Linked DNA regions of Homo sapiens. The protein of the gene in region 1 interacts with the protein of each later gene in a biochemical or structural test. Each region holds a gene or a part of one and is shown in the gene's direction. Other genes may lie near its edges.

The links.
Region 2: the proteins of MAP2 (region 1) and NEFL form a complex in vitro, tested with the Homo sapiens proteins (one study listed by BioGRID).
Region 3: of the proteins of MAP2 (region 1) and MARK3, one has a biochemical effect on the other in vitro, tested with the Homo sapiens proteins (one study listed by BioGRID).
Region 4: the proteins of MAP2 (region 1) and MYO7A form a complex in vitro, tested with the Homo sapiens proteins (one study listed by BioGRID).

Annotation. Positions count from the first base shown.
Region 1 is NC_000002.12:209,419,346-209,428,009, forward strand, and holds the start of MAP2 (microtubule-associated protein 2), read left to right. Parts: upstream 1-4,701; 5' UTR 4,702-4,931; intron 4,932-8,664. UniProt on the Homo sapiens protein: The exact function of MAP2 is unknown but MAPs may stabilize the microtubules against depolymerization. They also seem to have a stiffening effect on microtubules.
Region 2 is NC_000008.11:24,949,525-24,954,127, reverse strand, and holds the end of NEFL (neurofilament light polypeptide), read left to right. Parts: intron 1-260; exon of another isoform or gene 261-332; coding exon 333-652; intron 653-1,175; coding exon 1,176-1,318; 3' UTR 1,319-3,173; downstream 3,174-4,603. UniProt on the Homo sapiens protein: Neurofilaments usually contain three intermediate filament proteins: NEFL, NEFM, and NEFH which are involved in the maintenance of neuronal caliber.
Region 3 is NC_000014.9:103,485,872-103,494,316, forward strand, and holds part of MARK3 (MAP/microtubule affinity-regulating kinase 3), read left to right. Parts: intron 1-5,905; coding exon 5,906-6,163; intron 6,164-8,445. UniProt on the Homo sapiens protein: Serine/threonine-protein kinase. Involved in the specific phosphorylation of microtubule-associated proteins for MAP2 and MAP4. Phosphorylates the microtubule-associated protein MAPT/TAU. Phosphorylates CDC25C on 'Ser-216'.
Region 4 is NC_000011.10:77,129,801-77,138,245, forward strand, and holds part of MYO7A (unconventional myosin-VIIa), read left to right. Parts: intron 1-788; 5' UTR 789-834; coding exon 835-852; intron 853-8,412; exon of another isoform or gene 8,413-8,445. UniProt on the Homo sapiens protein: Myosins are actin-based motor molecules with ATPase activity. Unconventional myosins serve in intracellular movements. Their highly divergent tails bind to membranous compartments, which are then moved relative to actin filaments.

The DNA of each region.
Region 1 (8,664 bases):
TCTACTCAGCAGTACTGAAAACTTATACTTCAATAGTTTCTTAAAATGTTAAGCATTGTAATCCCAGCACTTTGGGAGGCCGAGGCGGGTGGATCATGAGGTCAGGAGATAGAGACCATCCTGGCTAACAAGGTGAAACCCCGTCTCTACTAAAAATACAAAAAATTAGCCGGGCGCGGTGGCGGGCGCCTGTAGTCCCAGCTACTCGGGAGGCTGAGGCAGGAGAATGGCGTGAACCCGGGAAGCGGAGCTTGCAGTGAGCCGAGATTGAGCCACTGCAGTCCGCAGTCCGGCCTGGGCGACAGAGCGAGACTCCGTCTCAAAAAAAAAAAAAAAAAAAATGTCAAGCATATATCTACCATTCGACCCAGAAATTTCGCTCTTGGGTATATGACTAAAAGAAACAACAACATATCCACAAAAAATCTTATATAAAAGTTCATAACAACCTTATTACTAACAAGCAGAAACTGAAAATAACCCCAAATGTCCACTAATTAGAAAATGGATATACAAAATATGGTATATCCATACAATAAAATACTACTGAACAATAAAAAGGAATAAACTGCAGATAACTTACAAAATAAAGAATACATCTCAAAAGTAATATGTGTGCAAAAGAAGCCAGATGTAGAATAATATATATTGTCTGAATCCTTTTATAGGAATTCCAAGAATATGCAAAGTGAAGCCACAGAGAAACATAATCAAAAGTGTAGTTACCTCTATGGGTTGGGGCTGAAGGTGTAGATTGAACATTTCTGATCTGTGCTTTTAACTGAATGTAAATTATACCTCAACAAAATTTTTGAACAGAATGATACATTTATGGTCCAGAAGAAGTCAATGGTAATTTCACCACCTGTTCAATGAACTAGGCATAGAATTGGAAATGGGAGACCATACTACAAAGCTCATTTTTAAATTTTAAAGCCATTGCAATGGTCAAAACTTGTGAAACATGATAGAAATTTTGATAGATGTGCCTCTAGTCATCCATAGAGAAAAGGTCAAGAAATTAAAAACAAAACACAAAAAGCCCATTTCACACATAGAAGGTAAAAGACTTATGTGTGTCTGCTCTTCAGTGTCATACCTGCATCTTGCATCCACATCTTTTCTATGATGGGCTGCACATTGTATCAGCATTGTTTGTGTATGTATGAACCTTGCTCATTGTTTCTCTAGGGGCCACTTAATTAATGTTCATCAACTTAATAAGCAAATCCTCAGCTGAGCTATAATTTCTCATAGCTTTATAAAACTAAAGTGACCTTAGGTGGCATGTGGTTGAGTCTCCTCATTTGCTAATAAAAATATTGAGGTTCAAAATGGTAGAGAGATGTACCCAAGGTCACACAAGCAGGGAACAGCAAATATGGGCCCTCAGATCTGACTTGAAGTCTGGTGCTCTTAACACTATGCAGTACAACCTCCTCAAAGGCTCACCTACTCCTTGACTCTCTGGGGAGAAGGTTTCATTACTTCCTATATACCAGTAGACCTTTCTCTAATCAGTAGAAATACATTTATTCTGATGGTTTTCTGACTGAGAAACTATCAGAAGTCCTGTCCCTGAGAAAAGGGTATGGTTGTTTATGTACGTAATCCTCCGGGCCAAATAAATACAAATCAAGAATTTAGCCTGAAGACAAGACAAGTAATTGTGGAAATCAATATTGGCAGGCTCTTTCTATCTGTGGTTTACTTTTTGGAGTCCAGCACTGTATTAGTCAAGGCTTCTTCAGTTGAAAATGACAGGAATCCAACTACAGCAAGCTTAGAAAAGAAACAAAAATCTATTGGCTTGAAAAATGGCATTTCTACCTTGAGACGTAGCAGGATCCATGGAGTCTTTCAAGTGTTCTTTCTCCATCTCTCAGCATTGCTTTTCTGCATGGAAGGAAATACAGTCACTGACAACTCTATACCTATACCATCCGATTCACTATTGTTCATATGACACATCTCATGGAAAAAAGCCTGATTGGAAATATTTGGGACATATGACCACCCTGTATCAATCACTATACATTAGGAGAACAGGTTCTACTATAGAGTTAGCCAGGGTCACATGTCCACCTCTGAGAAAGAGAAGAGAGGCACACATTTTACTAGCATATGGGGAATCATATGAAAAGGATCATTACTCTAAGGAAGGGATGCTTTGCTGAGGGAAAAAAAAAAGTTCACTTCAACACAAAGATCCCTCCTTAAACCAGAAGCCTAAACATATGGAGTCCCCTCCTAAAGTTGTTTGACATCCCAGGGCACTGACTCCTGCAAACTGTATTTCTTAGGCTGCTTTGTCAACTGACTTTCTTCTAGGTTCACCCAATGACAGGGTTTTGAAATACAGGTTAAAGGAGGGCCACAATATTTCTTTTCACTCTCAGCTTTTGGAGGACCCTCCAGCATTATCTGTCTCCCAGTAAGCATCTCCACTGTGGTCTCAGTTCCTTTAATGTAGCTTGTGCTCCTCATTCCTGGTAAAGCCTCCTCTCTAGCACTCCCCAGCCTGAGAGTGGTAGTACTTTCCTGCTAGTAACTATCATCGTGTTGCCTCATCATCCCCTAGTTGGCTTTTTAGTCATTTGAATCCTTTGTAATTTGTTCCCCATATTAAATTCTCTCTATTGAATTACAACATATAGATGCTATTTTTCTGAAAGAACTCTAAGATGTGTGTCGAGAGGAGGCAATCTCCCATATAAGGACCAGGTTCCCCAAAGAGAAAAGCCATTAGAGTTTGGCTGCCTCAGCTAATCTTAAAGTGGAGGAAAAAACAAACAAACAAACAAACAAACAAAAACAAAAAGTGCTGAGGAACACTGTACTTTAAACTATCAGAGAAATAATGTCTTTTTTATTGCTGTTTTTTAGAGACAGGGTCTCACTCTGTCACCCAGGCTGGAGTGCAGTGGTGTAATCATAACTCACTGCACCCTCAAACTTCTGGCTTCAAGCGATACTCCCTCCTGAGCTGCTGGGATTACAGGTGTGAGCCACCGCTCCTGGCCCTGGAAAATTACTCTCATTGAGCACCTGCGCCTGCATGCCTGGTCATGAATGTCAGCTGCTAACACTCTGGTAGCATGCCTACTCCTTCCTCCCATCCACATACTGTCTATGATTTCCTAGTCTCCTAAGACCTCCTTCTCAGTAAGGCCATCTTCCGAGGAGGAGCATCAACTCCTCCAACCTCCCAGCTCCTGGGTGTGCCTTGATACTTCCAAACTCACTGCAAGCGTCACTGGCACATGGTATGAAGCAGAGCGGGGGAGGCAGGACACAGAGCACTGGGTGTGACTGGGGAGGGCAGGCTTTCACAGCTTCCTCTGTGATGGTTTCTAATCCTTGCAGGCTCCCACCATTGGGTCTCTTTCCATCTGAAAATGGAGGAAATTAGACCAGCTGCCTAAAACATCAACTCTAATGTTCTAGGTTCTAAGATTCTGTGGTTAATTTAAGTGACAGAACCACATTATGGCTGCTGTTTCATCAGCACTGTGAAGACTGTACAAGCCACACCTCAGTATGTTGGCTGACCTTAAAAACACCTTGTCAGTACTTGATATAGACACTCGAAGTAATTCTAAGTTGCATCTTACTTTTCTTACTTACAATAAAATGCTGCTCTCTGATTATGAAGATTCATACTCCTTAGTACGAATGGTAAAGAATCATTTGTTTTCTCAGGTGGTCATTTCACTTTCAAAAGCATTTAAGAGGCAATTTTTTTAAGGGTGATATTTCAAGGTCAACACTTTCCGTGCTTTCTAATTCATTGTATTTGTATCATTCTTCAAAGATCCTTCATATTCATTATCTTTTTAAGCATAAGAGAATTGGGCTGTCATTTTTAGTTCTCATATGACACATGAATACACTGAGAGTTAGATTAAGTGAACTGTCTCTAGAGCATACGTCTGGCTATCTAGAATGTAATAACTATAAAGGGAGGGGATCTTTCTTATTAGGGTTGTGGGAAAGGTCTGTCACTGATGTTTCTAATGCTTAGAAGAGTGCCTGACACATAGTAGGTGTCAATAAACATTCGTTGACTCAATAAATGAATGAATCTAATTCGTGACAGAGCTGGGTCTAGAATTCTCTACTCCCTCAGCCATTGCTCCTTTAGTGCTGACAAGAGTTGTTCTATGTTCTCAAGCGCCCCACATTCCTTTGTCTTTTCTGGATGCACCTGTGGTTGGGTTTGTGAGGCGAGGCCAGTGAGCTTTCCTGGTGAGGTGCCACTGGCAACCCCGCCTCATAGCGACACAGGGGAGGGAAGCAGGGGGTCTGCGGAGGTTGCTCCCGAGAGACTAAAGCTGTTGCCCCCGATTTTCCAAGGACGCCAGTGAGGAAGGCCCGCCTGTCCCGCCGCCCGGGCACTGGCCTCACTTTGTCGCGGGAGGGGACCAGGGCTCTGGAGAAGGCCCGGGCCAGCGGCTGGGCGGGGCTCTCCGAGGCTCCCACCTCGCGGTCCCCGCCTGGCGGCCGGCGGCTGCGGCAGAAGGCGAAGCGGTCGTGCTCCCCCTCCCGGACACTGCGGCGGTGGCAGCGCCAGCCCCGCCGCGGCCGCCCACGGGCTCGCGGAGTCTGGCGGGACCTGCGCGGGGCGGGACCTGCGCGGGGCGGGGAGGAGGGGCCGAGGCGGAGCTGCTGCGCTGGGAGCCGGCTGGGGGCGCCGCTCTCAGTCTGGGGCGGGCGCTCGGGCTGCGCGGGCTCTGGGCAGCAGCAGCAGCAGCAGCAGCATCCTCTCTTCCTTTACTTCCCTTCCGCTTCTTTCTCTTCCTTCTCCTTCTTTTTCCCCCCCCTCCCCTTCTTCCCCTAACCCTTCTACCCCTCTCCTTTTTCTCCGGAGGGCGCTAAGTCCGTGAGCGGTGGCAGTCGCGACCGCGGGTGCATCCAGTTTCTGCGCCCAGGTAAGAGACCGTCCCCACCTCTGGCTCTATGTAGGGCGCCTCTCCTTTTGCCTCGGTCTCTGAGTAGAAAGAGATAGGAATGGGGAGGGGTTGTGTCTCGTCCTCTGGGACTCGCAGCAGGCAGTCTGGTAGTTGGTCGAGTGGCCAGCCGTGCACCTGGCGGAAGATTCGGGCCTGTCCTCTCCAGGTGTCACTGCGGAGCAGGGGGCCGGACGCTACTGGTACCTGAGCCCTGGCTTCGTAGAAGAGCGAGTGAGCTTGTTAGGTACCACTTTGAAACAACTGAAAACTTACGCCAGGTTAGAATACGTGTATCGAAAGCCAGTATTACCTGCGCTGTGGAAAGAAGGGGAGTGGATTCTACAAAGATAGTGGAAAATAGGAAATCGAGGTAGGGGATTTTTTTGTTCATCCAGCTGCAGAGAACTGCACACTGGGAAGTGAGTGAGTGAGGGAAGCCTTGTCCATTTCAAATCATGTTTCTCTGTAATTCCTTCAGAAACAGCTGGGAGAGGAGGACTGATATTTATAATTGTAGGAAAATGAAAAATAAATGCCTGGTGGTGTTGGAGGGCGGGGCACGAAGAAATGAGTCTGGTTAGGCTTCCACACAGTCGTTTTTCTTTTTAAACGTTGGGGGTGGACCTCTGAATCTACAGTGCATCTATTCTTTTCTTCCTTTTCTTTTTAAAAGGCTTTTTTGGTGGGGAGAGGAGGACTGCAGTGCTGGCTGCCTGCCTTCCCCCACCTCGTCTTTTGTTTAAGGATGGAAATTTCAAGAAAGAGTGTGTGGGGGGCTAGGAGTGGGGAGCTGTATATTTGGGTGTGTATAGGGGGAGGGGTATGGATGGAGTCAGAAAAAAAATCCTTGAAAACTGGAAATTAATGTTATTCTGCCTGGCATCCGGACTTCAGGATTTTTGTCAGAAAATAAAAAGCTTTCATTAGCAACAAGCCCGTTTGTGACAATTGCTGTGTGCCATCTGTCGTAAGCTCTTAGCACAATGCTTCCAGGACATAGACGCTTTAAAATTGAGTCCGGTGTAAAGGGTTTTTGTTTAAATGCCTAAACACACAAGTATGCACACAAATGTATAATACACTATATACATGTTACAAAAGGAAATAGGTACTTAAGAGACTGATTTTTTAAAATTGTATTTGAGGGTTTGGAAATTATGTTGTGAATAAAATCTGTAGTGCAAAACAAAAAAATATTGTTGGGTGGTATATAATTTTGGGTGTGAGGCAAAGGGATTGATGACTGTTGGTAAGGAACTAATTTAAATGTTAAAGGTATAATTTATTTTAAAATGATCAGTCTAGAAAAGGAAATGATTGCAAACTGAAATTGAGGTTTGCAGCCACAGTGAGGCGATGGAGAACAAAGCCTTCTATGTGAGCCACATTATGCAAAATGTCCCATGCATGAGCTGCAGGTACCAGCCCAGTTCAAAAGCATAGTTCTTTCACTATGTCATTTCACTGTGGACAATTATGATTTTTTTTGGCAGTCAAATAGATTGAATAAATAGAAGCCCTTTAGAATGCTTTTAATTTTATGCCCAGGGAAAAGATTACAGCCTTCCATCAGAATATAACACAAAGCAGCCCTTTAACCGGGCAATAGGTGTATTTTGGTAGAAATCCTTGTGAATTTGCAAATCATGGATGTTCCAAAAGCCCCAGCCCCATGCACACAAAGAACCCTTCCTTCAAGAAAAAAGGCATTTTTCTCATTCAGTAAGGATTATTATATTTGTGTGTGTATGTTTATGTTGATTTCCTGGTAATTTCATCTGATTATCATAGGTGTACATCTGCATTCATGATTTGTATATTATCAGAGCCATTGTGGCTTTAGGATCAGTGGTACATGCTGTTTATCTGTGGTTTATTTAATTTTAATTTTTCATATTTTACAGTTTGCTACAATATTATTTAATGTCCAAAGTTTTCTTTTTTAAAACCATAAGTAGAAAATTGCTTAACACACATCTGAAGATCTAAGTAATTTAAAAATAGAGCTACCTTTTATAAAATAATATTTTAGTTATATTAATTTTTATTTTATTTATCTCCTCTCTTATTTTTTTCCCTTTTCTAATCAAATAACCTGTTTCTTTATGGCTGCTTTAGTCTTCTATACTGCCATAGGAGGGCCAGTGTTTTCAAGAATTTTGAATTTAGGATTGTTCATTCTCTGCAGCACCTCTCAGGATGACTTGTTTACAGCACCTTCTCAGGGAGGAGACAGGGAAAGAATGTGCTGAAAGAGCATGACCCAGTGAAACTGGCACAGCCATTACCTCATCCTAGTAGGTACTTCAGATTCATTGAGAGAGCAGGCATCCTCTCAGTGGAAACCAAACACCAGGAGCACACCCATCTCAGGGCAAAAGCCTTTCTCTTCCCATAGCAGCCTTTACTAATGTCATTCCACTGAGGTTAAAGGGATATTTTCTCTTTTATGTATTCCTTTTCAGGGATCTTGAACTTGGTTAGAAATATGTAGCCAGAAATGAAACTTGGCACAGAATCCTCTAAGCCTGAAGGAATAATTTCATTCCTTTACCCCTTTTGGTTTAAACCAGTTCGCAAATTTTCTAAACATCAGAAGGGAAAAGGAAGAAAAATGTTGGTGTATTTTTGTGTATTTTCTTATCACACACACATATTTTGTATTGAATTTTACTAGCAGTTAGACAACAGACTGGACATGCTATTAACAAATGTAGTTGCACTGTTGGCATTTTAAAAAATCATTATTACATTTGCTTATAGGACAATAGGTGCATCCTTCAGTGATTCATTGATGTCCTTTTGAGACTGACCATATGAAACTGACATGGGGATTTTAGTATTCAAGTTGGTAACTCTGATTATTGAATCCTTTCAATACTTAATTTCCTCTTAACAGATTAAGATAAAGAATCTGAAATAATAGTTACAGTAGAAGATAGCACCACCCCCAGATCAATACTATCCTCCTTAATGCTAAAAGTAGTCACTTTAGGTAAGTCATTAGTAAATGCATGAACCTGAAGATAACAGTTTTGAAACAATCTCAAATTTTTTTGTCTCTGTTATAGATTAGTTAAAGATGCTAATAAACTCTTTGAGTCATATCTGATTCTCTCAGATATATCAAGTGTTTTTGCTACTTTAATTATCTCTTTACTATTGCCATTACCTTTATCTACTCAATCTAGACCTTTTCATGTAAGGACTGTATTTTGATCATTTCACCATATTTTCCCTCCCTTCACATCATTCTTTTTAATTCGACATTTGGATGTTAGACTTACTGTTCTCTAGCTATTTTGGTTTCAGTAATGTTACTCTCTTGATACAAATTTGGCCTTTATTTTTCATTAAGGAGAGCACTTATTACCATTTATGTATTTATTTATTCATTATGAGAAACAACTTTTGATATTCTCAGTTTTCAATTGCAGAAAATGATTCTAGGCACCAAAAGCAGTTAAAAGTCTGCAAATTAATATGTAGTACACAAAAGGCCAAAGTCAAGGGAGACAGTCTGTATGAAGGTTTGGGTGGGTGGGTAGGTGGGTGGGCGTAGAGGAAGATGTGGAATGAAAGCAAATTCTCAGCTATTAAAAGCTGTCCATGTAGGGTAGAGATGAGCCTTTTTGTCTAAGAGGGTGAAGAAGGAATAAATGTTTTGTTTTTCTGTTTCAACATATTTTGTCCCCATCCCTCCCCTGTCATG
Region 2 (4,603 bases), on another chromosome or scaffold:
ATCCCATTTAAAGTTATGTTGGATCAGAAACCTTCAATAATAGTCCTTTTGAAATAATGAAGTGTTAGTTTTTGGCTTCTTCCAAGAAGAGGGTATTTAGATATATAAGAATTTAACCCTGTAATTAGGAGTCCTGTTTTTATCTTGTCATTACACTTTAAATCTAATAGGATGATTTATTTATATTTTTTCTGGTCTCCATCAAAAGATCCCCAGGCATTAAGTATTGATAAATCCCAGCCCTGCTCCTGCTTGCCTTTGTGTTTAGGGTACTCAGAGCAAGTTGTGAAACACAGGTGTTTTTTAACCTCACCTTGCATCTGCATCCCCAGGAAACTCTTGGAAGGCGAGGAGACCCGACTCAGTTTCACCAGCGTGGGAAGCATAACCAGTGGCTACTCCCAGAGCTCCCAGGTCTTTGGCCGATCTGCCTACGGCGGTTTACAGACCAGCTCCTATCTGATGTCCACCCGCTCCTTCCCGTCCTACTACACCAGCCATGTCCAAGAGGAGCAGATCGAAGTGGAGGAAACCATTGAGGCTGCCAAGGCTGAGGAAGCCAAGGATGAGCCCCCCTCTGAAGGAGAAGCCGAGGAGGAGGAGAAGGACAAGGAAGAGGCCGAGGAAGAGGAGGCAGCTGAAGAGGAAGAAGGTATGATAAGAAAAAACCCCTGCAACTTCAAGTGTAAACTGGGTGTGGAGATTTGTTAGGAGGTGGATAAGACAAATGAAGCCTTGCTCATTTATTCATATATGACATTAGAATCATAAATAAATTTTCTGTTTGTTTAGCAAAACTTTCCTAAGGCATCTACTCTGAATGAGGTGATTGGTCAAAATTTTCATTTTTTAATATAATCATTTAACACAGCAGGTTGGTGTCCTAAAGAACAAAAATAGATACCAGACACATAATGAAAGAAATATTGAGGTTAAGTCTTGGAGAGGAGCAGAGCTTCCCATACCTAGAAGTGATCTCATTCGATTTAAATATGTGTTCAGTGGCAAATTATTCATGGCAAGCTTTGTCTGTTACATGTGCTTTTGGAGAGAGTGGAGCTGGGAGGTTTTGGTAGCATTCTGACAGTTGTGTTTGCAAATAAAACCTTTGCAGACATGTTTTGACTGGACTTACCCTGGATTTGCATTTTGTACATTTTCTTTTTATGTTAAAGCTGCCAAGGAAGAGTCTGAAGAAGCAAAAGAAGAAGAAGAAGGAGGTGAAGGTGAAGAAGGAGAGGAAACCAAAGAAGCTGAAGAGGAGGAGAAGAAAGTTGAAGGTGCTGGGGAGGAACAAGCAGCTAAGAAGAAAGATTGAACCCCCATTTCCTTAATTATTTCAGGAATAATTCTCCCGAAATCAGGTCAACCCCATCACCAACCAACCAACCAGTTGAGTTCCAGATTCTATGTGAATTAAAAAGTCAATATATGTATAATTCTGAGATGACTTAGGTTGGACATTCAATGTTGTGCTATGAATTTCCTCTTTATGCAGAGTATCTGTTTGCTTGCAGAGTGGCTTTCTGGCTTGCTGCCAGCCTGTGCATGGACCACGCTTATGAGTTCAGGATCTACGGCAATGTGAATCATTCAGATGTTTACAATAAAAAACACCACATGAGTAAATGAATTCACTAATGTTAATGTTAAACTTCATGGAAAAATAGTCCTTTGAACCTTCGGTGGTTAGCAATTAAAGACCCTGAGTTATGTGCAATAAATAGTAAATAAAGTTATACCGAATGATGTATTTTTTGCTGTGGTTGTTACTTAATTAAAATACCTTAAAGATGGCACCAATATAAAGTATATACCAGTGGACTATTGACCTCCAATTTTTTAAAAAGTTGAAATTTTAACAATTACCAATACTTTTTTTTCTTCCTTCAATTGGAAATTCTGAGGGATACAGTTATGTCATGATTACTTGTGAAATCTCTCCCCACAAAAATTTTACTGATAATAAACATGAGTAAATGAGAAAGTCTATAAATAACAATAGACTTTGCCTCATAACACGTGTTGTGTTAGGTTTTGGGATGGCTTTCTAGGGAGCAATTCTGAAATTACTTGACAGATACACTCTTTATGGTAAACAGGTCATTTCAGAGTCTAGAGTGCTAACCATTACACTATGGAACCATGATAAATAGGTCATTTCAAACTGATATGTCACAATGCAATATGGATAGAATATGAATCCCATACATTCATCCCTATAACTGCATTTTAAAATATAGTCTAAATATCATGGGAGGAGGTTAAAACCTGAGAACATGGTACAATAAGAAGGAATAATTTTTTATCTATATATAATTTCAGGAGAAGGGATTAAAACTACCAAAGGTTATTTGCCACTCCACTGCAAACATGTTGCCTGCAATCCTGAGCTCATGATTTAGTGTGTTGTTAAGCGTAATTCTGTTGCCTCAAGTAAATACCACTTAATGCTACACATTTTTAAACCTTTAAAAGCTACAGACACAAGTAATGAAATTATGAGTCACTTAAGGGGGGAGGTAATATGCTTGTATGTTACATTGACATTGCTCTGCATGTCTCTACTGGGAGATATTTGGATTTCAATGATAGCTTGACTGGTTGGACATTGCATCAAATACACGCCCCATGTATCCTTTCTGTCGTAAAGTTAAGAACGCTCTTGCATTTGATGTGGAATAAATATAGATGATATTACTATCTGCTATTCTGCCTTTGTTCTGAAACAATTGCTTTGTCAGCTAATTTCATTCAATATTTGTTTTTTAGACGATCTCTATAAGTTATTAATTTAACCTGAAACCAAAGTGGTCTCCATTTAAAGTTACTTAATCCCTTTGTACCACCTATTTCTAGTTAAATATATGTTGCTATGCAAATAGGTAAAGTGCTTCCTTGCCATGATGGTAATGGATTGGAACTATGAAGGCTCTCAGTGTATTGGCTTCTGTAAAGATGAGGCGTCTCCTCAGAAACAAAACTTTTCACATTTCTGCTTACTAGACCTGGGTTGATGTACATGGTAAGTCTCAAACAGATGCAAGCTATGTGCAAAAAGTAACTTTAGCCAAATGGAAATAGCTGGATGCTTTGAGAATTACTTGGTTGAAGTAAGAAAACTGTACCATCCTCTATCCTGTGTGCCATAATAAAATAGTAAAAAACCTAAATTGAGCTTAAAGTCTTTTTTAACATTTCCCCAAATTTGGTACTGTGGTCAGTGCCCCTTTTAACCTGCAGTTCTCTTTCAGTATTCCCTCTCCTAATGAATGATCCCCTCTCTATAATCATCTGATTCCATTAAATGGACTCCTTAAATGACATCCTACCTCCCATTACCTCTCCTCTGCCCCTCTACACTAACCTATCACAGAGTTATAGTGAGAACACCTCCATGTCTTAGATCCTTCCACATCTTTCAATGTCTTAAATCCTTCCACATCTTTCAATTTATACTGCCACCACTCTAACCCTTCTCCCAGGGCCTACTCTTGGTCTCCTTCAATTAGCACCCTACAGCAGGCTAATCTTTTAAAAAGAAAATTTTGATCTTGGCATCTCCCTGAATAGAACCCTCTAATAGTTTCCCACTTTTAATATGAAAACCAAAATCTCAAATGTGATCTTCAAGGCCTGCCTAGTGCTGACTCCTGCCTAGTTCTCTAACCTCATCCCATTGTACAGCCCTTTCCCTCCACTTCCAGCACTCCAGTCACCCTGGTATTCTGTTCTCCCATCTGTCACAGGATTTTTGGTGATTCCTTTTTCTGGAGCACTCATCTTTTCTCTCCTTCCCTCAGCCTTGCCCAGCCGGTTCCTACTGACCCTTCAGATTTAGGCTTAAATGTCATTCTCTAAAGGAAGCCTCCCTTGACCTCTTCTAGTGGGTCAAATTCTTTGAAATATGTACATAAGACTTTGTAGGCTTTTTGATTCTTGCCATTAGCATCTATTTGTGTGATCAGTTGATGAATGTCTGCCTCCCCCATTACAGTGGGATCTTTACAAGTATTAGAATCAGATCTCTGTTGCTCATTAATTTAGCCCCAGTATCCAGCATAGTTCCTGCCATAGTAGAAGCACAGTGGATATTTATTTAATGAGTGACTTTCCCCATCGATTAAAATGCCTTCAAGATGACTGGCAAGTCAAGAGTGTTCAATAATAAGTCCCAGTCTAGTCCATACCTTCTTGTAGAAAGAGCAAAGAACCAAGAATCAAGAGTCCATCCTGGGTCCTAGCTTTGCACTATTATGGAACATTGGCCATTCCTGCCCAACCTCAATTTGCTTATCTACACAAGGGTTCAGTGGTGGACATTTCAGATCCATTCTAGATTCATAATTCAAAATCTCCTGAAATACCCTTACTGCTTTATTTTAGAAGTCCAGGCTAAATGGCTGAATGGAAAACACACATATGATACTCATGTCCTCACTAAAAATCCACCCCCTAAAGGGAATTGCTAAACTTAGTGTGAAGTTTCATTGCTAGCAATTTAACTGCTCAAATTGGTAAGCAATTAAATTCGTCACTTTTTTACCCATATGGAGATTCCAGTGCTGTTGGAGGGGGTTACTATGTCCCATGATGCTGTTCT
Region 3 (8,445 bases), on another chromosome or scaffold:
TAAAAATATATATATTTTTTAATTTTAAAAGATAGTCATGAATACAAAACAGTTGGGAAGATTAATAGGAACTCTCTTCATGCAACTTGAATTTTAAGAAAAACATTGCTATTTCTATCAATTAAGGTTTAAATGTAGACCAGGCATGATGGCTCACGCCACCATGTAATCCCAGCACTTTGGGAGGCCATGACAGGAGGATTGCTTGAACCCAGGAGTTCAAGACCAGCCTGGGCAACATGGTAAAATTCCATCTCTACCAAAAATACAAAAAAATTAGCTGGGTGCCAGGCACAGTGCCTCACACCTATAATCCCAGCACTTTGGGAGGCCGAGGCAAGTGCATCACCTGGGGTCGGGAGTTCAAGACCAGCCTGGCCAACATGGTGAAACCCCATCTCTACTAAAAATACAAAAATTAGCTAGGTGTGGTGGTACATGCCGGTAGTCCCAGCTATTTGGGAGGCTGAGGCAGGAGGATGGTTTGAGCCTGGGAGATGGAGGTTGTAGTGAGCCGAGATCACACCATTGTATTCCAGCCTGGACGGTAGAGCCAGACCCAGTCTCAAAAAAATAAAAATAAAAAAATTAATGTAATACAGCTACTATGAACCCACAAAAACTTTAAAAAAATTTTTTAATTATTAAAAAAATGTAATGCTGCTACTGTTTTGCTTATGTAGATTGTGGGCTAGAATAGGAAATAAAACTATCATTTTTAACACTTTTCTGGGGGGAAATATTATTCGAATTTCATAACAATTAGCTTGATGACCTTTTAGAATATATATGTAGACCATTGTGATGTTGGGGCTGCCTGTTGTAAATAGGATTTTTGTGAGCTTGATTGTACAAAATTGAAATTTGCAAACATCTTACTGAGTTTACTGTTTCCTTCTGGGTGTTAGGCCTACTGTAGAAATCAGAAAAATCGGAAATATTTTGTTGCTTGCTTTGTGAAACTCATGATGTGACATGGATTAAATTTCTAAAAAGTTTATTTAATTGCCTTTAAAATTAGTATGTCAAAAAGTTTATTTATTTATTTATTTATTTATTTTAATTTGAAACAGTCTCTCTCTGTCACCCAGACTGGAGTTTAGTGGCATGATCTCAGCTCACTGCAGCTACCACCCCCGGGTTTAAACGATTCTTATACCTCAGCCTCCTGAGTAGCTAGGATTACAGGGGCCCGCCACCACACCCAACTAATTTTTGTATTTTTAGTAGTGATGGGTTTTTGCCATGTTGGCCAGGCTGGTCTGGAACTCCTGGCCTCAAGCAATCCACCCGCCTCAGCCTCCCAAAGTGCTGGGATTACAGGCGTGGGCCACCACGCCCAGCCTCAAGTTAATAATTTATAATCCCAGCACTTTGGGAGGCCAAGACGGGCGGATTGCCTAAGCTCAGGAGTTCCAGACCAGCCTGGGCCATGACGAAACCCTATCTCTACAAAATTTTTTTTTTTAATTTATAATGAGAAAATAAATTTACATTTCCTTCTTAGGTCTCTAGAGGATCCATTTTTTTTCTGCAAAGCATCTGTCCACACCCTCTTACCATGCTTGTATGCCTTAAAGATCTAGCTTGGCCTGTCAGCAGTGTGCTTCATTGGGAATCGATGCAGCACCCTCCTGCCTGCAAGCTGACTAAAAGCCTTTTCCTTCTCCAAAGACTTTGGGACCATTTGTATTCACCAGGGAAAGGGTCAAACAACTCCTGCATCTTCTTCCCCTGCTTTTCTTGGCACATCTACTGATACTAGCTCCTAATTTGGGCAAGAAAAAAGTCAACAACTGGAGGTAGAGTGTGTTGACCCTGGACTCACCCTGAAAGGTAAGGGCACAAGAGATAGTTGTATTTAGCTGTATCTTGTTAGAAAAATACATTTGTGTAGCCAGGCGCGGTGGCTCACACCTGTAATCCCAGCACTTTGGGAGGCTGAGCCGGGTGGATCACGAGGTCAGGAGTTCAAGACCACCCTGGCTAACATGGTGAAATCCCGTCTCTACGAAAAATACAAAAAATTAGCCGGGCGTGGTGGTGGGTGCCTGTAGTCCCAGCTACTTGGGAGACTGAGGCAGGAGAATGGCGTGAACCCAGGAGGCAGAGCTTGCAGTGAGCAGAGATCACACTGCACTCCAGCCTGGGCGACAGAGTGAGACTCCGTCTCAAAAAAAAAAAAATAAATAACATTTGTGTGCATTCATGTGTACGTGTGTCTGTACACATGTACAAGAAACAACCGAGCATTTCTTTAAAAACCTTAGTCAGTTAGAACTGTCTCTGTTGCAGGTGACAGAAAACCCAGTCTAAACAGGCTTAAATATAAAAGGGCTGTTAGTTCATATAACTAAAAAAAGTCCAGGGCTAGAGTTACGGTCCATCTGCTTCTGCCTCCTTGGCCGTAGTTCCATGATTGGGCTCGGCACCATCAGACATAACTTCTTCCCACACACAGCTGTGCTCAAGCAGAAGCCCTCAGGTGGTCTCCTTGATCTGTGTGGGGCCTAGAGTTACTTCCACCACAGCAAAATCTCATTATTGTTGCTGCAGGAAAAGAATGGATACTGAGTGGCAGAAATACGAAACTGGATAAATTTTTGCCTTTATAAGACATTTGTTTCCAGTCCTTCTCAGACTGTATAAATTCTCCCAAGTCAGAGAGCAGAATTCTCAAACAAAAATGCAGGGACAGAACCAGGCACAGTGGCTCACAAGGCCTATAATCCCAGCACTTTGGGAGGCTGAGGCAGAAGGATCAGTTGAACCCAGGAGTTCAAGACCAGCCTAGCCATCATAGTGAGACACCATCTCTACAAAAAATTTAAAAATTAGCCAGGCATAGTGGCACACTCCTGTGGCTGAGATAGGAGGATCGCTTGACCCCAGGAGGTTGAGGCTGCAGCAAGCTGTGATAGTGCCACTGCACTCTAGCCTGGGTGAATACAGCAAGACCCTGTCTCCAAAAATAAAAATTTAAATAAAAATGTTTTAATTCAGGGACAAGCAGTTCTTGATTTTAAAGACGTATCTGCTTTATGTTGGGGCTATCAGAATTCCAGTTGCTAATTGATTAATCTGCTCTGTTAGGAGAACGTTTGTTGAATACCTGCCCTGCCAGGCTTTCTGCTTACACTGGTGGGGGGCACATTGACAAGATTTTGGGCTGTGTTTTCAGGGACCTCCAGCAGAGAAGGGTCACTAGGATACAATGTGGCATGCATGAGCTAAAAACAGAAGTGATTTAACTCTCAGAGGGAAAATGGATCAGATAACACTTCATAGAGATGACGACATCTGGTTCATTTTTGAAGAGTGAATAGAAAGATCCCAGCCCTCCATACCAAGAGAATAACTCCTGCAAACATTTTCTGACCTGGTGCCTGACCAATGGACCACACATCATCAGGAAGGCTAGAAAGTTGAGTTCCAGGAGGGAATGATAGAAGGCAAAGCCTAGAGAGATGGCAGGGGCCAGACTTCAGGGGCCTGGGGATGTGTACTTGCACTCCAAGTCGAGGAGACTGAACTTTTTACCAAAGACTTGGTGTTCTGTAGAAGTATGAGCAGATGAGTGACAAGATCTGGTTTATATGTTAAGAAGTTCTCAGCTGTAAGGTGAATAGATTGGAGGTGTTGGGGCAAAGGCAGGGGACCCAGTGAAGACAAGGAGCGAGGCTCTATACTGAGGCCCTGGTAGAAGTGGAGCAGATGGGCCACCTGAAGAGCTACTAGGAAGTTGACACCAATAAGATGTCGTTAGTCTGTGTATGGGGAGTGAGGGAAAGGAAGAACTTGCCAGTTTCCAGGTTTTAATCCTTCCAAAGGATTTCTGCAGAAAGACACTGGAAGAGCTGTATTCCTACTTATCCTTAAAGGAAAGAAACTGCCCTTGAATTCCAAGGACATGATTACTGAGCTGGAATTCCAAATAATGTGTCCCAGTGAGACTCCTGGGGGTAGTTTTGTCCGGTAACTGTGTGTGTTAGATGAAACTGCAGACTTCCAGCCACTCTATCTTACCATGTCTGTTAACAGTTAATTTGCTCTGATGAATTTGCCCATCTTGGAGAAGGGGGCTCTGCTGACTGTTTTTTATCTTGGAGTAAATGTCCTTTGATTAGGAAGGTTCTAGACTATATTGTTAAAACAACATTGGAAGGCTGGGCATGGTGGCTCATGCCTGTAATCCCAACACTTTGGGAGGCCAAGGCAGGCGTATCGTTTGAGCCCAGGAGTTCAAGACCAGCCTGGGCAACATGACAAAACTCTCTCTACTAAAAATACAAAATTAGCCAGGCATGGTGGAGTGCGCCTGTATTCCCAGCCACTTAGGAGGCTGAGGTGGGAGAACCACCTGAGCCCAGGAAGTTGAGGCTGCATTGAGCCATGATCGTACCACTGCACTGCAGCTAGGTGACAGCAAAACCCTGTCTCAAAAAAACACCAAACAACATAGGATACTGTTATATAACAGCTAGTTCCTATACCTGTAATCTTATTAATTCATTTAAAATACATCAGTGCGGGCCGGGTGTGGTGGCTCACACTTATAATCCCAACACTTTGGAAGGCCAAGGCGGGAGGATCACTTGAAGCCACAAATTTAAGACCAGCCTGGATAATATAGCGAGACCCTGTCTCTACAAAAAAAATAAATAAAGAAAAAATAAAATATGTCAGTGTGTTTTGGGAACAGGTTGAGAGCATAGCATGCTCATATTATATATTCATTTTACCACTTAGATTTGAATTGAGGCATCTCTTAGAATAGGTTTTATTTTGTGCATACCCTCAGAGGACATTGTCCCTCTCATAGAAACAGATATTCAAACATGTAATCTGCTATTTTATTTTAAGGTAATAGATTTTTATGATTACTGTTTGGAAAAAAAAAAAAGCAACTATAGGTTAGCAGTTGCTCCAGAATCTCCAAAACAAGCTTAGGAGATTTTTATTCTTTACCAGAAATGAGATGGCTTGGGAGGAAGGTGTGTGCATTACACACAGGTTGCTCTGTGGTCACTGCTCCTTCATACTGTGTTTCTGCCTCTGCCTGAACCCAAACCCCTCCCAGCCTGACAGAAATGTTCGCTTACGCAGCTAGCCCTGCCTCAGTTTGTACATCTACCTGTCGGCTGAGACATCAGAAGTCGATGTCCATGTCAGCCTCTGGGCACCCCAAGATGATGTTACCTCCAATAGACAGTGAAGGAGATAACTTCAAGGCTATGTAAGAAAAATGCACATTCTTTGTGAAACTAATGTGTACCCACTGCTTCTTAATTTTGTGCTGTGGATTTTATAGTCTGAGATTTTGTTACAGTTGTCCACAAGGCGTCCTTCCTCCATGTGATTTTAGTTAAGCACATCTTTTGTCATGATGTCCTCGGTTGTGTATTGTGTGTCTTCGTGCCTTCGCGTACTACAAAATGTATAAGAAGTTCCTGCTCCTCCCAAGTTGCTTTCAGCATGTGGAATTTTATACATATATCATTTGTTTACTTCCAAAACTTTTTAGTTGCCTGTTCTTCAGTTACGCCAGCATATCCTTTATTTCTTTCGTATTGGCACAGTTCTCTATGTAAGCAATTTGAGAGGGAAGCAAAGGGGAAAAGTTTGAGTTAGCTGTTCTCTGTCCTAGAATTTCCCTGCATTAATCTTGTCCTTGAAAATATATATAATACTGGTCCCTTAAACTCCATGAGGCTTTGTCTCATTATGTATTGTTCTTTTGGTACCCTTTCCCACTTAACTTACCTTTTGCTCCTAAGTCCTATAAAATACCCCTTGGATCTGGATTTTTTATACCCGATTTTCTCCACTGTGTATAAAAGGTATATTGTGACTGTAAATTTTTGTATATCATGTTCTGAGAGCTTCTTACTTTCTGATCTCATAGCACTATTCCTGATCAGAGAACTCCAGTTGCTTCAACACACAGTATCAGTAGTGCAGCCACCCCAGATCGAATCCGCTTCCCAAGAGGCACTGCCAGTCGTAGCACTTTCCACGGCCAGCCCCGGGAACGGCGAACCGCAACATATAATGGCCCTCCTGCCTCTCCCAGCCTGTCCCATGAAGCCACACCATTGTCCCAGACTCGAAGCCGAGGCTCCACTAATCTCTTTAGTAAATTAACTTCAAAACTCACAAGGAGGTAAGTGCTAGGTGCTGGTTGTTTTGGAGTGAACACATAGAGCAAAAGGAAAGATGTCTTTTTTGTTGTGTGAAGCCACTGCTACCTGGATGCTTTTCAGTCTGCCTTCAGCTCATGGTTTTCTGGTTTTATATATATCTAACTTTATACTTTAAAACCTTTAAAGTAGAAATTGTAGAGCTCAGAGTCTTCATAACACTAAAAGTTAACTAGCATTTAGGAGGTTTTTGTTACTGTTCTTTAATTATTGTTCCTTTTGCTCACGTATCTGTCTGCATGGCATGTTCGTTGTTGTTGAGCAGGCAGACCTCGAGTTCTGGTGTGGGGTGGGGGGCTGGCACTCTGTAACAATCAGCAGGAAAGACCATGCATGTCTTTCATAATCATCTCCAGCCCCAGAGGAAAGAGACAGCTTCTCTTTTCTCACTTTATTGTTGTTAAGGAGCAGTAAATTTCTTAAGAGTCCAAATCTTGAAAGTTTCTCTCTCAGTCTTAGTAATTTATATTGAGAGCAAGGTAATGTCCTTAAATGGTATAGTTTTGGAGATAAAATCTCTGGTTTATTATCAAAAAATAATGTTACTATTATTAAGTTATTTTTATTAAATGCTGCATGATTCTTGGCTGATGGTCCTGGAAATTTTTTAAAATGTTCCATGTGTCTAGTAGGCTAGCATCTGGGGCCTCAGTAAACTCTCAAGGGTCCTTTGAGATTAACTTCATTTCCGTAACCTTGTTACCTGTTACAAAAGCCCAGAAATACTGGCTGCTTCAAGAGGAAAAAGAAAGGATACCACTTTGAACCGTAAACAATAGTGAAAGGCACCTTTCCGAGAAGGAGCCCAGGAAACCCAAGAGCCCCTGCAGTTTCAGGACATCCTTGGAGAAATGTTTTGAAATTAAGCCTAGCTGTGGATGAGTCTGTCTGTGGTATCTTGCAGGTTTGCCTAGGACGGACCCTCTTATTTGTCATCTGTAGCTTACAGGACAGCAGTAGGAGTCTTTCCCGAGTCTGAAATGATCAGTACCCTCCTCTGTTTTTCTGCATTCCCTATGGCCTATAGCCTATTACTTCATTTCACTCCATCTCCATTATTTAAACTAAGCTAAATGTAATCTTGTATTCGATCATCTGAAACTTCGGTGAGTCACATTAAAGTCTGATCTACTTATTATTAGGACATGGAATAGATTAGGGAGTATTCCTTTTTTTTTTTTTTTTAATTTTTTTTTTTTTTTTGAGACGGAGTCTCACTGTCGCCAAGGCTGGAGTGCAGTGGTGCAATCTTGGCTAACTTCAACCTCCGCCTAGATTAGGGAGGATCTCTGACATCCATTAGCATTAACTAGAAGTCAGACGCATCAGAAGGTTTCTATTTACCCTCTTACTCACTTCTTAGCCCCTTTATTAAGCCACCTCATTTTAAACTGGGCAAAACAGAATCAGCCAAAGAGCTTTGCCAGGTTTGGGACACCCATTCATGACCAGCCAGCAAGAGAGACAGTGAGTTCAATCTGAGAAGAGTCTGGTGACTCCCAGAATAAACCATTCCTTCCTGGCCAGCCGTGGTGGTTCATGCTTGTAATCCCAGCACTTTGGGAGGCCAAGGCGGGTGGATCTCCTGAAGTCAGGAGTTTGAGACCAGCCTGACCAATATGGTGAAACCCCATCTCTACTAAAAATACAAAAATTAGCCAGGCATGGTGGTGGGCGCCTGGAGTCCCAGCTACCCAGGAGGCTGAGACAGGAGAATTGCTTGAACCCGGAAGGCAGAGGTTGCAGTGAGCCGAGATCGTACCACTGCACTCTAGTCTGGGTGACAAAGTGAGACTGTGTCTCAAAAAAAAAAAAAAAAAAACTTTGAGTTTATTTTTCTTCTTTGTACTCTTTTTTCAGTCATTTTAAGACTAGTATTGGGCTGGGCCGGATGGCTCATGCCTGTAATCTCAGCACTTTGGGAGGCCAAGAGGGGCGGATCACCTGGGGTCAGGAGTTTGAGACAGGCCTGGCCAACATGGCAAAACCCCATCTCTACTAAAAATACAAAAATTAGCCAGGGGTGGTGGCGCTCGCCTGTAGTCCCAGCTACTCTGGAGGCTGAGCCAGGAGAATCGCTTGAACCTGGGAGGCGGAGGTTGCATCTAGCCAAGATCGCGCCGCTGCACTCCAGCCTGGGTGATGACAGAGCGAGACTCCATCTCAAAAAAAAAAAAAAAAAAAGACTAGCATTGATTGGCCAGGCATGGTGGCTCACGCCTGTAATCCCAGCACTTTGGGAGGC
Region 4 (8,445 bases), on another chromosome or scaffold:
CAGGTAGAAGGGCCAGTGTGTGAAGGCCAGGAGATGGCAAGAGCTGGCGTATTTCAGGAACAGTGAGTCACTGAGGATGTCCAAGTATAAGGGTAGGAAAGGGAGTGAGCAGTGAGAGAAAAGACCGAGGCATCAGCAGGGGCCAGATTGTGCTGGGCCTAGCGGGGCGGGCCCGGGCCCGGGCCCAGGCCCAGGTGCGGTGCATTCAGCAGCACAGCCAGAGACAGACCCCAATGACCCTGCCTCCCCGTCAGCAGCCAGTGCTCTGCACAGAGCCATCCTGAGGGCAGTGGGTGCTCTTGAGAGGTTTCAGGCAGGGTGTGCTGTGAGCAGGTCATGCCCAGCCCTTGACCTTCTGCTCAGTCAGGCTTGTCCTTGTCACCCACATTCCTGGGGCAGTCCCTAAGCTGAGTGCCGGAGATTAAGTCCTAGTCCTAAATTTGCTCTGGCTAGCTGTGTGACCCTGGGCAAGTCTTGGTCCCTCTCTGGGCCCCTTTGCCGTAGGTCCCTGGTGGGGCCAGACTTGCTACTTTCTAGGAGCCCTTTGGGAATCTCTGAATGACAGTGGCTGAGAGAAGAATTCAGCTGCTCTGGGCAGTGGTGCTGGTGACAGTGGCTGAGGCTCAGGTCACACAGGCTGGGCAGTGGTCAGAGGGAGAGAAGCCAAGGAGGGTTCCCTTGAGGGAGGAGGAGCTGGGGCTTTGGGAGGAGCCCAGGTGACCCCAGCCAGGCTCAAGGCTTCCAGGGCTGGCCTGCCCAGAAGCATGACATGGTCTCTCTCCCTGCAGAACTGTGCCTGGCCCAGTGGGCAGCAGGAGCTCCTGACTTGGGACCATGGTGATTCTTCAGCAGGTCAGTGTTCCCACCTCTTTGGGTGGCCTGTCCTCCCCAGGCCATATCCCCTCATCCATATGCTTACCCGTGGGACACCCTCCCCAGGGTGTTCTCTTGGAAAATTCCTGCCTAGGCTTCCAAACCCAGCCCTCCAGGCTGAGGCCTAGTCTGAAACCTGTTCCCTCTGCTGTGCCAGCTGGGGTTTCCTTCTCTCACTGGCTCACCCCACTGGGCAGAAATGAGTTTATTTACACACATCTCTGGATCCCAGGCAGTGGAACAGCATGTGCAAAGGCCCAGGTGTGGGAAGGTCCCTGGGGAAGAGGAGAGGAGGTTGGCAAGGCTCCCAAAGCCAGGCCAGGAAGGGCCCTGAGCCCAACTTATTCTTAGGGCCTTGGGGAGCAGTGACTGGAGGGCGGGGGGTGACAAGGCTTGAGCTGGAGCCCCCTGGGATTTTATGGGAAGAAGCAGAGGTGCTGGCCCGAGCTGAGTCCTCCAGCCCCCCTTCCTACTGAGGGCCACAGTGGCCTCTGACCCTCAGCCCTTCCCCGTGATCAGTCTGAGGCTCTAATGAGCTCCTGGCCTCCAGAGCAGGAGCCAGGAATGTGGGCCCTGAGCCAGGTGGGCCTGGCAGCAGGCCGTAGGGCTTGTGGGGCTGTGCATTATGGGGGCTTGGCCAGCAGCTTCTCGGTCTCCAGGGTCACCAGAGGCCAATGGCTCAGCCTTGCCTGGCCACCCTGAGGCTGCACGGACCAGCATGTTTGCATATGAGTGCGTGCGCGTGTGTGTGTCTGTGTGTGTGAGTGAGAGGCAGGCTTCAGGGCAGCATCAGGACAGACATTCTTCTATCCCAGGGGCTGGAGGAGACCCCCTTTAGAGCCCCTTGGCCTGAGAGCCTGTTCAAACGCCCATTAGAGATGGGCAGGATCTAGGAGAGGAAAAGTCCATTCGCTGAGTGTTTGCTGTGTGCCAGGGCCTGGGCCCCCATAGCCCTCCAGGGGCGTCCTCCCTCAGGGGGCCTCTGAGGCAGGCCTCTGGCTGATGGGACCTCCTCACCACCCCCTCCTCTCCTGCCCCTCTGAACGCTGACCCACCTCCAGCTGTGGGTGGCCTCTGTTGGGAGCAAGTGTCTTGTAGGTGAATGCCTGTTCTGCCTGCCCTCAAGCAGGAAGTACACTCAGCTCCTTCCTTGGTCCTGAAGAAAGCCCCAGCCCTGGGGAACCGGCCAGCTCTGCAGTTGCACAGGCCGGGCCTAATGGGCTCCAGCCCAGGCTTTGCTATTGATGAGTGGGAGGGCCTTGGGCACGTTACTCAGCCTTCCTGAGCCTCAGTTTCCTCATATGTAAAATGAAGATTAAAAGCCTCTTTTCCCACAGCTGCCGATGAGAGGCTAAAATGCCATGTGGAGCTCCATGAAAATGCTTCTTCCTTCCTCTGCTTCCCTGGTCTGCCCTCTCCTCCTCTCTTCCTGCCACATCCTTCCCGGTCCTGAAAGGTCCACGGAGTGCTTGGCTTCCCCTCTTGCCTGGCTGACTTCTGCTCAGGCTTCAGTGTAGCCTCTACTTCCTTCGGGAGGCTTCCCTGCTCTGCAAACCCCAGGGCCTGGTCCACAGTCCTCCTCCTTTCTCTGCCTACCTGGGGCTTCCTGATGAGCCCTGGACATGAGGGACAGCCTTCATCCCATTTCCCGTGGATCTTTCAGGATAGGGAAGGAACTGGCAGGAAGAGAGGAGGAGAGAGGCAGTCCAGGGAAGCAGATGAAGGAAGAAGCATTTTCATGGAGTCCCAAATGGCATTTTAGCTTCACAATGGCAGCTGTGGGAAAACAGGGGTTTTGTTTGTTTGTTTGTTTGTTTGTGTGTGTGTTTGTTTTGAGACAGAGTCTTGCTTTGTCACCAGGCTGAAGTGCTATGGCATGATTTTGGCTCACTGCAACCTTCGACTCCCTGGTTCAAGCAATTCTCCTGCCTCAGCCTCCTGAGTAGCTGGGATTACAGGCACCCGTCACCACGTCCAACTAATTTTTGTATTTTTAATAAAGACGGGGTTTCACCATGTTGGCCAGGATGGTCTTGATCTCCTGACCTCGTGATCCGCCCACCTCGGCCTCCCAAAGTACTGGGATTACAGGCGTGAGCCACCGCACCAGGTGGATAGAGGTTTTTAATCTGCATTTTGCATATGATGAAACAGGCTCAGGAAGGCTGAGTAATGTGCCCAAGGCCCTCTTACTCAACAGCAAAGCACAAGATGGAGCCCACTGGGCCCGGCCTGTGGAACTGCAGAGCGGGTCGGCTCCCGGGGCTCGGGTTCTTTTTAGGACCAAGGAAGCAGCTGAAGCATACTTCCTGCTTGAAGGCAGGAGGAGCAGGCATTCACCTACTATTCCCTGCCCTGGAGGAGTTCCCAGACCTATGTGGGGAGACAGCTTAGAAACCTAGGAAAGGCACTGTGACAGTGAGTCTCCAGGGGGCACGGGGATGAGAGGGCACCTGGGAATGGGAGAGCCTTCTGCCCTCCCTGGGAGAGGGTGGACAGGGAAGGCCATGAGACAGCTGCAGCAGCCTCTCATGAACATACAGGGACTGAGGTCTCTGGAAGAAGGACTAGCCCAGCTGACTAGTGGCGCACCTGTGTGGCACACCTGACTCACATCTTTAAGGACCACAAGGAGGGCTTTTGTGCTTCAGTATGTCATGATTCCCAGCTTCATGGTGGTGCCAGGGTAGGGACTCTGTGTACTTGGCCCAGATTTGTGGGCAGAGGGAGGTTTGAAGATAAATTTGTGGGCTGTTGATAACAGTTGGATTGATGCTTTTAGTAAAATATAATGTCCTTCTTTGTTTCTTGTAATGATTTTGACTTAACATCTATGTCTGATAGTGTAGTCATCTCAACTGTCTTTTGGTTACTATTTGCATGGAATACTATTTGCATGAAATCCTTCTACTTTTAACCTATTTGTGTCTTTGGATCTAAAGTGGATCTCTTGTAAGCAGCATATAGTTAGATCATGTGGTTGGTTTTTGTTTTGTTTTGTTTTTATCCATTCTGCCAGTCTTTACCTTTTGGTTGGAGAGTTTAATCTATTTACACATGAAGTAATTACTGTTAAGGAAGGACCTCTGCCATTTTGCTATGTTTTCTGTATGTCTTATATCTTTTCCTCCTCAATTCCTCATTACTGCTCTTTTGTGTTTAATTGACATTTTTTTCTAAAGTACTGTTTTGATTCTCATTTACTCTTCTGTGTATTTTAAAAGTTTTTTCCTCAATGATTATTCTTAGGTTTACAAATAACATCTTTTTTTTGAGATGGAGTTTCACTCTTGTAGCCCATGCTGGAGTGCAATGACACAATCTCGGCCCACTGCAACCTCTGCCTCCTGGGTTCAAGCAATTCTCCTGCCTCAGCCTCCCAAGTAGCTGGGATTACAAGCGTGCACCACCATACCTGGCTAATTTTTTTTATTTTTAGTAGAGACAGGGTTTCACCATGCTGGTCAGGCTGGTCTCAAACTCCTGACCTAAAGTGATCTGCCTGCCTCAGCCTCCCAAACTGCTGGGATTACAGGTGTTAGCCACTGCATCTGGCCTACAAATAACATCTTAAATCTGCATCAATATAGTTTAAGGCCAAATTAGCTTCAATAATAAATAAAAATTATGTTCCTTTATAGTTCTATCTCTCCCCCTTTATGTTATTTATTGTCCAAATTGCATCTTTATACATTGTGTGCCAGTTAACATAGATTTATCATTATGTTATACATTTGTCTTTTAAATCACACAGAAAAGAAAGTAGTTACAGACCAAAAATACAACATTTTTTTTTTTAAAGAGATGGAGTCTTACTGTGTTGCCCAAGCTGGTGTGCAGATGCTATTCACAAGTGCAATTGTGGTATACTACAGCTTTGAACTCCTGGGCTCAAGCAGCCCTCCTGCCTCAGCCTCCTAAGTGGCTGGGAGTACAGGCGCCTATCACTGTGCCTGGTTAAATATGACTTTTCTATTTATCTATGTAAGTGCCCTTACCAGTGTTCTTTAATTTTTTTGTATGGCTTTGCATCACTGTCTACTGTACTCTATTTTTTTTTCCAATTTTGTATTTTTTAAAATACATATAACAACATATACCACTTAACTTTTTTTTTTTTTTTTTTTGAGACAGAGTCTCACTCTGTCACCCAGGCTGGAGTGCAGTGGTGTGATTTCAGCTCACTCTGCAACTTCTGCCTCCCAGGTTTAAGTGATTCTCCTGCCTCAGCCTCCTGAGTACCTGGGATTACAGGTCCCTGCCACCATGCCCAGCTAATTTCTGTATTTTTAGTAGAGATGGGGTTTCACCATGTTGGCCAGGCTGGTCTTGAACCCCTGACCTCAGGTGATCTGCCCGCCTCAGCCTCCCAAAGTGCTGGAGTTACAGGAGTGAGCCCCATGGCTGGCCCCATTTAACCACTTTAAGTACATAGTTCAGTGGCATTAAATACATTCACAATGTTGTGTGACCATCACCACTATCAATTTCTGCAATTCTTTTCATCTTGTAAAATAAAGATTCTATCCATTAAACAATAACTCCCCATTCCCCTCTCCCCACCACCCTTGGCAACCACCATTCTGCTTTCTGGTTTTGATTTGACTATTCTAGGTGCCTCACATAAGTGGAATCATACACTATTTGTCTTTTTGTGATGGCTTACTTCACTTAGCATAATATCCTCAAGGTTCATCCATGTTGTATTAATAGCATGTGTCAGAATTTCCTTCCGTCTTAAGGCTGAGTAACGTTTTATTGTATGTTTATACCACATATTGTTTATTCATTCATCTATTGAGGAACACTTGGGTTGCTTCCATGTTTTAGCTATTATAATTAATACTGCTTTGAACATAGGTGTGCAAAGACCTCTTTGAGATTCTGCTTTTAATTCTTTTGAGTATATATCCAGAAGTAGAATTGCTGGGTCATATGGTAATTCTCATTTTAATTTTTTTAGGAACTGCCATAGTGTTTTTCACAACATTTGTATTATTTCACATTCCCACCAGCAGTGCATAAGGGTTCCATTTTCTCCACATCTTTACCAATACTTATTTTCTGTTTTGTTTTGTTTTGTTTTGTTTTGTAATAGCCATCCTAATGGGTGTGCAGTGGTATCTCATTGTGGTTTTGATTTGCATTATCCTAATGATGAATGATGTTGAGCATCTTTTCATGTGCCTTTGGTCGCTTTGTATATCTTTTTTGGAGAAATGTCTATTTCAGTCCTATGCCTATGTTTGTTTGTTTGTTTTGGAGACACAGTCTCACTCTGTCACCCAGGCTGGTGTACAGTAGTGCCATCAAACTCCTGCCTATGCCCACTTTTGAAATGGGTTGTTTGTTTTGTTGTTGTTCAATGTCTTTTAATCTTTAGCATTTCTTATAGGGCAGGTCAACTAGTGACAAACTCTCTCAGCTTTTGTTTACGTGGGAATGTCTTCATTTCTCCTTCCTTTGTGAGGGATAGTTATGCCAGATATAGAATTCTTTCTTGACAGTTTTTTTATTCTTTCATCATTTTAAATATGCCATCCTACTGCCCTCTGGCCGCCGTGGTTTCTGATGAGAAATCAGCCGAGACTCATACTAACGATTCGTTGTATAGAATGAGTCACCTCTCTGTTGCTGCTTTCAAGAGTCTCTGTCTTTGCCACTTGTGGAGAAGAGGCCTATTCCTCCAGCTCAAGGGTGGTCTCAGTAGTCGTTCTGGAACCAGGCAAGGTCAGGTTCTTAGCACCTTGCAGGGTCTCCCCCAGGGGACCTCTCTTTAGCCACCAGCCGCCAGACTTACTTTACAATCTCTTCCCTCTCTCCTCTGATTCTCTGAGTTTGCTGTTCCCTCTTCCTGGGATGCCCTTTCCCCTAATGTCTGCCTAAAAAAAAAATCTTAAAACCCAGCTGTCACCCCTAACACGACTCCCTTAGTTAACCATGGCTGGCACTCATATACATTTGGTCTAACAGGCACCAATCTAGGTGCATTACGCATCTTAACCTGTTAAATCCTCACGAGCACGTGGAAGCAGTGTCATTTTGTCACCTGACGGATGAGGAAAGAAAGGAACATAGAGGTTGAGGAACTTGCCCAAGGTAACACAGCTTGTGAGTGGCTGAGCTGGGATTGAAACTAAGCCATCTGACTCCAGGGTCCAAACTCTTAGTGGCCATGCTATCCTATGTCTCCGGGACTGATCTGCCTCTTATCTGGTGGTACCATCCTTATCTGTGCCTGGGTCTGTCCACCACACCAGGCTGGGAGCTCTGAGGACATGTCTTGTTAACAGTGTCCTCTGTACTTTAGTCTGAACCTGTACTCAGTGAAGGTCGGTTATATGAACTCGTGGTAGAATGCCTGGAAGCTCACCACCAGCACTTCCTTGTGTCTGAGGTCTGGGTCCTGTCCCAATGTACTGCTATAGATGGGCGGGGAGAGATAGGTGTGCCTGTTTTCGGCTTGACTGGGGGAAGGACCTCTCCTGAGAGCGGTGTCCCTGAGAGGTCACAGGAAGTGAGTGGGAATCACTGATCAGTCAGCTTCGTGCTGGACAGCAGAGCCCTGGGTTCCCAAGGCTGGGACAGGGAGTGGGGTAGAACTGGGCCCATCCTGGGTGGCTCTGAGCCCTGTGTGAGGCATCACCGTCTTTTTCGTTGCCATTCCCCCCACCCAGTCCCCCGCCCCCACTCTCTGCCGTTGTTCATTCGTTGGGGAGCAGTTGGCTTCCAGGATACTAGGCAATGCAGAGAGCCACAAATGCAGACTGGAGGCCTTGAAAAGAGAAGAGGAAGAAAAAGGAGGAAAGAGGGGAGGAGGACAAAGATAGGCAGGGCAAGGCGAGAAGGAGGGAATGGGAGAGGAGTCACAGGGCCTGGGCCTTCCGGACCCTCGGGATGGGACGGTGGCCTCTGGCTCACAGCCCAGCGTGGACCGACGCCTGGTGTCCAGCCCTGTGTGGCTGCTAGGACACAGGAGGCCAGCTTGGCCCATTGCAGGGAGAGCTCTGAGCCATCGAGGTGGTTCAGCTGTCCTGGGGAGTTCAGGGGACCCCACACCAGGCCTCCAAGGCCTCTTCTGCAGGATGGACGTGGGCTGCTATTTGACCTCGGGGGCTGCGGGAGGAGGACATAGCCTCTTCAGGGGCTTTCCCCCAAACTTACCCCAGAAGGAAACTGTATCTGCCCTCACTCCCCAGAGGCAGCCAGGGAGCCAGAAATATCTTCAATGCATCTCTCCTTTAGTCTTAAAAACCCCGGGAGTTTACCGCGTTCTAGTCCATAACATCCTCGTGTTTCCTTCCATGGAAAACATAGAAAAAAACATGACGATTTTTTCCAAAACTGCCGTCAGGTGCGGTGCCAGGTGCCACGTTTATCCCGGGCCTACCGCCGCGGTGCCAGTGAAGCCGCCTGGGATTCCGGGCAAAGTGGGGCTGTGGGGGGTTCGGCCGAGACGGAGGGGGCCGGGGTGGCGCGGGCGCCCCCTCGCCGTCCCGCCCGCGGGCGTCACCTAAGCCGCCGTTGCCATGGGCCCGCAGCAGATGGCCCGGTTTAGGGTTCCGGGGCGGG